Regions from separate parts of the Homo sapiens genome. Here region 2 is linked to region 1. Evidence: fine-mapped expression QTL. Tissue or cell type: adrenal gland. Region 1 holds a variant in brackets; the other region holds the start of a gene. All regions are shown on one strand. Distances are between the middles of the regions.

What was found. PIP is the estimated chance that this variant, and not a neighbour inherited with it, causes the effect.
Region 2: it holds the start of SOX6, and the variant in region 1 is fine-mapped to the expression of SOX6 in adrenal gland (GTEx, PIP 0.91).

What each region holds. Positions count from the first base shown.
Region 1 is chr11:16,062,756-16,067,910 of GRCh38, forward strand. The region is part of intron 9 of SOX6 (SRY-box transcription factor 6); the gene reads right to left. Among named protein-coding and RNA genes, the nearest start is that of MIR6073, 96 kb to the left of the region's middle. RefSeq lists an enhancer at 2,374-2,518 and a cis regulatory region at 2,446. The variant A/G (reference allele first, on the strand shown) is at 2,446.
Region 2 is chr11:16,353,356-16,358,510 of GRCh38, forward strand. It overlaps SOX6 (SRY-box transcription factor 6), which reads right to left and starts at 3,191. Exons shown (of 16, transcript NM_001367873.1): 1 at 2,739-3,191. RefSeq lists an enhancer at 2,876-4,189.

The DNA of each region.
Region 1 (5,155 bases):
TTTATGGCTTAAAATGTTCCACCTTTAATACTGGCAGCTTTAATAAAGTAGCTAGCATTAAAATCTTGGTAAGCTCAACAATGAGATATTTGACACATAGAACTGAAAGGACATTATCAAATCATTTAGGTTAGTCTGACTTCCTTATTCTGCCAACGAGCTAAGATCTAGCAAGTAGCTTGCCCAAGATCATATAATTAGTATTGAAGTTAGAAGAAGAACTCTCTAGCTATCACTTCAACATTACCAGAATATCTATCACTTAAAAGTAGAAATGGATATAAAATTAGACAAGTTTTGCACCTTTCAAGCACATATCCAGCATCGATAAATTTGACCAATCTCTTAAATAAATTGAATTAAGAAAGTCCTGTGAAGATCTCACCAATCCACAAATAAATACTTCTAACAGTATTTGCACTGCTTTGTGTGCTGTGGCTAGCTTTAAAGATAAATCTGTCTTCCATTTGGATGTTAGTGACACTTTAATAACCAAGCCTGTTTAGATTTAACCCAAAGCAGTAGGTCCTACCAATCAGACTCAGCCTCATGGTGAAACCCTTCAGTGCCTTCCAGTACACATAATGGTCTATAGCAGGACCTAAGAAATGTATTGTGTCAGTAATTGATGTTATACCATGACTGTATTTGAAAAGAGAAGCATGCTTTGTCCAAATATAGCCAAACTGATGTCAAATTATAATGGGTGGTGTCACGATGTAACTATATTTACCATAATTTTATATATATATATATATATATATATATATATATATATATATATATATATATATATATACCTGCTTTCTATGATACAATCATTTAGGATCTCTAATGGAGTGTGCCAAACAGAAAAAGTACAAGGCCTTTTCTCATTATAAACATATGATTTTCATGTAGCAACATAACCAGTCATCTAGTTTTCCAATAATCACCCCAATTCATTAATGCATTAATTCAACAAATATACATTGAGAACTAAACTCAGTGAGGCACTGGGCTGGATATTTTACATTTATTATTTCATTTAATCTTCACAATTATTATATAAGATAGAAATTATTATCCATTTTAGTCAATCTTACTTTTAAGCCTGTATTCTTTCTGCTTTTAAAATTAAATTATTTTAAATAAGCTACACAGTGAACCACAATGAAACCAATTTCTTGTTCCTAGTCATCAGAAAAGGATCACTGTCCAAGGAGAAGAAAGATTATGATGTGACTGCTATTCTGAGCTCTCAAACAGAAAATTGTATTTTCAAATGTCTTACAGTTACTCTCTAAAATGGCATTTCACAATCTTCAAATGGACAAGAAAGAGGTAACAGCACCACCAGTCACCTTGAAGGAATAAGTGTCACAATCAGATCTAGAAAATGTCCTTCTCCAAATCTTCAAGCCATGGTAGAAAACCCCTAAAAAATTAACCCCACATTAATAGACTGATAAGATAAAAAGAAGAACTATGCAAAGTATAAGTAGACAGAGCTTGATAAAATGGGAATTGAGGGGGGCTTTAAATTGGGACCAGTATGCTCCAGTATACAAAAACTAACAGTAAAAAAGAAGGCACAACCTTACACACCAAATTCTTTTAGGAATAGATTCTTCTGTGCTCTGTCATTTCAATTTATTAATTTATTAAGTAGCCTACCAGAATCCACCCCGGAAAGAAAGAAATAAAAATCATCTCTCAGAATACTTCCATACTCATTCTACAAGGCCAGTACTACTTTGATACCAAAACCAGACAAAGCCATACATATATATATATATATGAAGCCATATATATATATGAAGCCATATATATATATGAAGCCATATTACCTCTGATGAATATTGATGCAAAAATCCTCAACAAAATACTAGTAAACCAAGTCTGACAATACATTAAAAAATATCATTCATCATGACCAAGTGGGATTTATCCCTGGGATGCAAGGATGGCGCAACATATACAAATCAATCAATGTGATACATCATATCAACAGAATGAAGAACAAAAATCATATGATCATTTCAACTGATGCTGAAAAAGCATTGATAAAATTCAACATCCCTTCCTGATTTAAAAACCCTAAAAAAACTGGGGATAGAAGGAATATGCCTCAATATAATAAAAGCCGTATATGACAGACACACAGCAAATACCATACTCAATGGAGAAAAACAGAAAGCCTTTCCTCTAAGATCTGGAACATGACAAAGATGTCCACTTTCAACACTGTTATTCAACATATTACTGGAAGTCCTAGCTAGAGCAATCAGACAAGAGAAAAAAACAAAGGGTATCCAAATTGAAAAGGATGAAGTCAAATTATCCTTGTTTACAGATGATATGATCTTATATTTGGAAAAACCTGAAGACTCCACAAAAACCCTATTAGAACTGATAAATACGTTCAGCAAAGTTGCAGGATATAAAATCAACATGTAAAAATCA[A/G]TAGCATTTCTATATTCTAACAGTGAACAATCTGAAAAAGAAATTAAAAAGTAATGCCACTTACAATAGTCACAAATAAAATTAAATGCCTAAAAATTAACTAAAAAAGTAAAAGATCTCTCTTAGGAAAACTATAAAATACTGATGAAAGAAAGTGAAGAGGAAATCAAAAAATGGAAAGATATTTTGTGTTCATGAATTGGAAGAATCAATATTGTTAAAATGTCCATGCTACCCAAAACAATCTAGAAATTCCATGCAATCCACATCAAAATACCAATGACATTCTTCACAGAAATAGAAAAAAAATCCTAAAACTTATAGTAACCAAAACAGCATAGTACTGGCATAAAAACAGGCACATAGGCCAATGGAACAGAATAGAGAACCCAGAAACAAATCCACACACCTACAGTGAACTCATTTTTAACAAAGCTGCCAAGAATACATGCTGGGGAAAAGACAATCTCTTCAATAAATGGGGCTAGAAAGACAGGATATTCATATGCAGAAGAATGAAACTAGACCCCATCACTAGCCTTATACAAAAATCAAATCCAAATGAATTAAAAACTTAATTCTTAGACAAGACCTCAATGTATGAAACTACTGCAAGCAAACATTGAGGAAACTCTCCAGGATATGGGTCTGGGCAAAGATTTCTTGAGTAATATCCCACAAGAACAGGCAACCAAAGCAAAAATGGACAAATAGAATCAAACCAAGTTAAAAATCTTCTGCACAGCAAAGGAAACAATCAACAAAGTGAAGAGACAATCCCAATAATGGGAGAAAATATTTGCAAACTACTCATCTGACAGGGGATTTATAACTAGAATATATAAGGAGCTCAAACAACTCTTTGGAAAAAATATATTAATCCAATTAAAACATGGGTAAAATATTTGAATAGGTGTTTCTCAAAAGAAGACATACAAATGGCAAACAGGCATATGAAAAGTTGCTCAACATCACTAGTCAGAGAAATGTAAATCAAAACTACAATGACATTATCATCTCACCCCAGTTAAATGACTTATATCCAAAAGACGGTCAATAACAAACGCTGGCAAAAACATGGGAATCCCTGTACACTGTTGGTGAGAATGTAAATTAGTACAACCACTATGGAGCACAATTTGGAGGTTCCTCAAAAAGCTAATAATAGAGTTACCATATGATCTAGCAGTCCCACAGCTGGTATATGCCTAAAAGAAAGGAAATCAGTATATCAAAGAGATATCCGCATCCCCATGTTTATTGCAGCACTGTTTGCAATACCAAAGTTTGCAAGCAATCTAAGTGTCCATCAACAGATGAATGAGTAAAGAAAATGTGGTACTTATACACAGTGGAGTACTATTCAGTCATATAAAAATGAGATTGTCATTTGCAACAACATGATGGAACTGGAGGTCATTATGCCAAGGGAAGTAAGCCAGGCACAGAAAGACAAACATCATGTGTTCTCACTTATTTATGGATCTAAAAATCAAAACAATTGAGCTCATGGAGATAGAGAGTAGAAAGATGGTTATCAGAGGCTAGGAAGGATAATGGGAGGGTTTGGGGCAGGTAAGGATGGTTCATAGGTACAGATAAATAGAAAGAATGGATAAGACCTAAGTTGATATCTCAACAGGGTGACTATAGTCATGCCCAAGGCCATAGGAGCCCACCTTTTGCATCAGTTTGACCTAGATGTGGGACATGGAGTCAAAGAAGATCATTTTGAAGCTTTAAGATTTGACTGCCCTGCTGGATTTCAGACTTGCATAGGGCCTGTAGCCCCTTTGTTTTGGCCAATTTCTCCCATTTGGAATGGGTGAAGTTACCCAATGCCTGTTACTCCCATTGTATCTAGGAATTAACTAACTTGCTTCTGATTTTACAGGCTCATAGGAAGAAGAAACTTGCCTTGTTTCAGGTGAGACTTTAGACTTGGACTTTTGGGCTAATACTGGAATGAGTTAAGACTTTGGGAGACTGCTGGAAAGGCATGATTGTGTTTTGAAATGTGAAGACATGAGATTTGGGAGGAGACTGGGGCAAAATAATATGGTTTTGTTGTGTCCCCACCCAAATTTCATCTTGAATTGTAGTTCCCATAATCCCCATGTGTTGTGGAGGGACCCAGTGAGAGGTAATTGAAACATGGGGGCTGGGTTTTTCCCGTGCTGTTCTCATGATAGTGAATAAGTCTTGGGAGATCTGATGGTTTTATAAAGAGCGGTTCCCCTGCACACACCCTCTTGCCTGACACCATGTAAGACGTGCCTTTGCTCCTCCTTCACCTTCTGCCATGATTGTGAGGCCTTCCCAGCCATGTGGAACTCTGAGTCCATTAAACCTCTTTTTCTTTATAAATTACCCAGTCTCTGGTATGTCCTCATTAGCAGCATGAGGATGGACTAATGCAAGTCAATAATAATTTAAATGTACATTTTAAAAATAACTAAAATAGTGTAACTGGATTGTTTGTAACACAAAGGATAAATGCTTGAGAGGATGGATACCCCACATTATATGATGTGATTATTATGCATTGCATGTCCATATCCAAACATTTCATGTATCTCATACATGAAATAAATATTCACCTACTATGTGCCCACAAAAATTAAAATTTCAATTTAAAAAAATTCCCCTTCAAATACTACCTTCCTATTTGTAGAGGATAAAGAAAGGAAGAAAAAAAATTACTATTCTA
Region 2 (5,155 bases), 290 kb after region 1:
ATATAACATTACATATATCCTAACTTCTGAGGAAAAGAAATAGAAAAGCCTCTCATATGAGGACATGAATTCTTATAAATTATAATTGTCTGTGAAAGCTGAAGAAAGGTTTTTACCACCAACCCAAATTTCCACATTTTTTTATACACACCAAACAGTCTGGTTTCACAAATAACTAAAGTGCTGCTATCTTGTATTTCTCCCTCTGTACTTCCACCACCTCCTCCCTTTCTTATAGCTATTTGCTTTAAATTTCTCACTTGCATTTGCTGGAATTATCATAAACAGCTCCAGGAGAACATGAGAATCCAATTGTTTCCATGAATCATTGCACAGAATTGTTTGAGTTATCATTATAAAAGACAAGTATGACTACCTGCTGTCTTGCATACTTAAGGGATTCTTTACCAAGTACATATTTGCACACCTACCAAGGTACAGAATTTCTGGTTTTCCCAAGCTGTGGTGTTAGTTATAGGAAAGAATCCTGCATTATTTATCTGGTCCTGTTCTTTCTTCTCATATAACCACCACCTCCACCTCACGATTTCCCAAAATTGAGTAGTCCCCTGAAAAACTTTTACATTTATCATGCCTAATCTACCAGCTTTTTAGATTTCTTCAAAAGTAATACTTTATTTGCATCCATGGTGCCTAGAACTGGAAAACTGCTTGCTACCAGTCTTACCAGGATCTATTGCCAGAAGGAAAAGTACAGTATAATGGAAAGGTTTAGAGGAAAGACTTAAATCTCATTTACTATGTCTGTGAACTTCAGAAGTTACTTAACTCTCTGAGTCTCTATGTACCCATCTATAAAATTAGGGACAACACATCTTCCTTGAAAAGTTGTTGTGAAGAGATTAATTTGATATATGTGCAAATACCTGGTATTTGGTAGTTATGAAACAAATGCTAACTTTCTTTAAAGAAAACTTGACAGAAAAATGGTTTGACTCAAACAAAAACAAATAAAAATCCTTAAAGAAAAAGATTCTGAATTTTTACACATCACAATAAATAAAAATTCCACGGAATATAAGTTTTCCAGTCCCAATATACTCGTGACCCAGTGCTGAGTGAACTAATGACAAGAACCATGCCAAGAAAATAAAAAGCACAGGGTAAAAATATATTGTTACTGTTTCTCAAAAGGGGTATGGACAGGAGGGAATCACTTTTTACACAGGGAAGACCAAAGCCTACAGCATCTGCTGCTGATAACTGTATTCCTAAGGACAATAGAGTCCTGAGCTGTAGGTGCCTATTCAAACCACCTATTATTAACCTCTTTCCTTGATTTTCAACTAAAACGGTCCAAGTATTTGGAGACTGTAACCCATTTGCTCAGAATTAATTTTTAAACAGAAGCAGCCTTGCAGTATACTAAAATTGCTACCAGAGCTTAAATTAACTTGACAATAAATAAAAAGTCTGAGCTACCCTATCCTATGAAATACATGAATACCTTTCAAAGCCTGATTATTTTCTTGTCCCCTGGCCCAACACTAAATGTTCCAAAATGTTACTTGTTTCACACAATTTTTTTTTATTTCTAAATCAGGTCTAAAATCAAGTTGCTACTAGTGTGCTAAAGAACCCCAGCACATTCTCATGAGCTGATTGAAAGCAGCTTACCTTAAAATTCTCCTCTCACAATTCACTTTAGAAAATCAACTTGAGGAGTCATAGATTTGCTAGACTAACTGTTTGGTATTCTGGTCAATTCATTATCACAAAATAGGTATTATTAACTGTACCACAGCTTAGAACAATGACACACTATTCCATGTGTAGTTTGAGATCACTATTTCCACAATTTGAAGCTGAAAGTTCCATCATCAAGATAAACTTGCCTAAAGACCAAACTCACAAACAATAAGGTATCTAGGAAAGCTGGATAAGGAAAGAAACAAATTAATATTTTGAACTTTGACAGGCATGATGGAAAACAAATTCAAGGTGTGTGTTACTCAGAAAAATTCAAAAGAAATGTATCGCAGAATAAAAAGGAGTAAATTGAAAAGCATTGATAAAGCACTATTTTTAATGCACTTGCCAATCATCAATTTAATTTACTATAGTTTTATATAAATAATACTTTCAATACATAGTTATAGCATTAAATACTATAAATCTCAATGTAATACCAGTCTTGCTTAGTTATAGCAGCTTATGAACATTAATAATTTTAAGTTTTTACTAAAAACACATCAGCAATTACCCAGTGGTCTGCTTGTCAGTTGTGTTTCTTTGAAATGTTTATTATGATTAAATATTTTCATTAGTAAAAACATCTTTTACCATAGTGCATAAAATACCTTATCAGATGCAGCATATATTAGAAACTAGCCGTGTATATTGGAAAGATTGATTTTATTGAAAAGATTCATGTAGGGAATCTATGATTCCTCATAGATAATAGTACTCAGGACCTTAGATTATACAGAAAAAATAATCACATGTTAAAAATCTACGAGATGCTACAAATAAAGGTATGCATATTCAACCCTCAGGAAAACCAAATCTGTTTTTAAATAGTCTGTTGCAATTCCCTAGCAAGATTACAAATGTCATGCAAAAATGCTTTTCAAGTTATTACCTTATTACCATAACATAAGCTTTTCTTAACAAGCCATCATCCCACCCAATCAGGTAGGCTTTGAAGTTAGAAAAATTAAAAGGTAAAGTAATACAGCCAAGACCTGTGACAGCTAAAGGAAGCACAAATCACTCACATGAAGTGGCTGCTCTTCCACTCTTCAATCCGGCTTTCTCTTACCACATCAGCCAGAACTTCAGAACTTGAGGGCATAACACCTTTGACACCTTCCCAAATCACAAGAAACCTCTGACTGCCAACCAAAAAAAAAAAAAACCCAACCCCACAGCTAATTAATCTCTGCCAAGTCTCAGGCTACCAATTGTAGCCATAACTTTAAGCAACATCTAATTTGCTAAACAAAACACTGTTAACTTTGTTCAACAATTAAAGGAGTTAAAAACATAAAAGTAAATGAAAGAAGTGAAATCTCTTGGCCTGTTGGGAGATACAGTACCCCACATACCTTCTGCCACTGCTGCTACAGTTAAGCAAACTTTACAAGCTAGTCAAGCCATCATCCAATAGAGCCTATTTGCTGAGCAACAGTGGAGCTTTGTGGTTTGCCTCACAGTTGACAGTAAGTTATGAGCCCTTTGTGAGCACAGGGGAAGGAAAACAGAGATCGGAATTTGGCAGGAAAATATAATACAGAATTCTCCTGTCTATGGAACCTGAATTTTTGTGAAAACAATCAAGCATTGTTGAAAGAAAGAAAAGCAACTTTGACAGATGAAATATAGAGGGGCCCCTTTTAGGAAAACAGTAAACAAAGCGCCATTCAGGCCAGGTCCATTCTGTCATTTATAAAGATAGTTTCTTCTGTGTGGTGAGAGTTTACAGCAAAGAGTTCAGATTCAACAAATCAAGTGTAAAATCTCCCACAGTCCCCATTAAAAAAGCCTGCTAGGAAAAGACAGGAATGCCAAAGAGAAAAATATCACAAGTTTTTCTGTTTGGTAGAGAGGATACAATAAGTAGATGGGGTGAAAGGGACTCTAAGAGAAGTCTGAAAGACAAGCCAAAAAACTAACAATTGTTAATTATAAAAGGCTAATTTTGTCAGAGACAGGAAAAGAGGAGGACACTGGAGATCACTCAATAGAAATATGAAAGGAAGAAGCCATTCTTCATCATTGTTGGAGAACTATGTCTCTATTTCTCCAGGCTGGACCTCATGAGGTCATCATTGGCACGAAAGGCTCAAAAACTTGGGCTTGGTACTACTATAGTTTGGCCATCTGGAATGTCAGCACACAGTGCACTACTTTCTCCAAAGTATCTTAATTCCTCTTTCCAAAAATAGGCACCCTGGCCAGCTTTAGTCACCCAGACTGGAAAATGTACAGCACAGAATGAAATGAAAAGCATTTTTGTTTTCTCACCCTCCTCAACTAGAAATACGATTTCTGTGCGGGAGAATTAAGGAAGAGGGGCCCAGAGCACTGAAGCTCTGATTTACAGAGCCTATTTCTGCTATGCGTACGGTCGGCAATTGTTAGTACTTATAACCAACTGAGTTTTGGGCATCCATGGAATTCTTAAAGACGTATGTCTTTTCAGCCAACACAGTCATTGTTAATGCTTTAAAGAATAAAAAAGAGGGACCACAAGCCAATAAAGTCACAATTAGAATCAAATGACACATTGCTTGCACATCATTTGGAAAACATGTATAAAACTACTTGGTTTTTGCTACACCCAGCTAAAGTGACAGCCTTCGCTGTGTGTTAATCTGGAATCAAACCAAGCCACACCTAAACAAATAATGCTTAGTAGATGCAAAATAATACGGATTCTTTTATTTAGACTACCCAAACAATTTATTTCACCAACGAAATCCCATAATAACTAGCTACATTTTAAACATTCCTTTTAAAACAAAGCCCACAAAATGCTGAAGTGTGCCCATAGGTCAAGAATAATAAAAGCAAGCATGCATATGGATTCAATGCTGCAGATTTATTCAGCATTGGTTAATGGTTTCTATAGAGATTGATGTCAATCTCTCTGGCCTTTCTTGTGTCAACAGTAAGTTACAACAAGAAAGATCGTGGCTTTTGCCTTTGATTAGAAGAGGTATCTTTCTCTAGTTGACTGAAGGTCACAGCATTTGCAACATGTGCTCACTTATTACAGCTCCCATGCAGAATGTATACATAAAAAGCTGATTTACTCCCCAAAAAGGGCCAGAGCCATAGTGAACAAAAGATGACTCTGACCACATTAGATGGTTTTCTTTTCAAATAAATTCAGTCCTGATAAACCATTAAACATCAGCACATTACTAATAAAACTATAACTAGGAGACATCCTTCCACTCTGCCATTCTCCTGCCATCAACGACTTTCAAAATTATAGAATGCCAGGACAAATCATTACATTGTTTTACCTTAAAAATATATTTTACAAGAAAATTCTCAATTTTATTATGAAAGAACAAATAGTTCTACCAACAGGAAAGTGTTACAGCAAACAAACAGGGTAACTAAGGGGAAACCCAGTTGGTTTGAACATCTAGCAGCTGAACAGAACACAACATGACTAAAATAT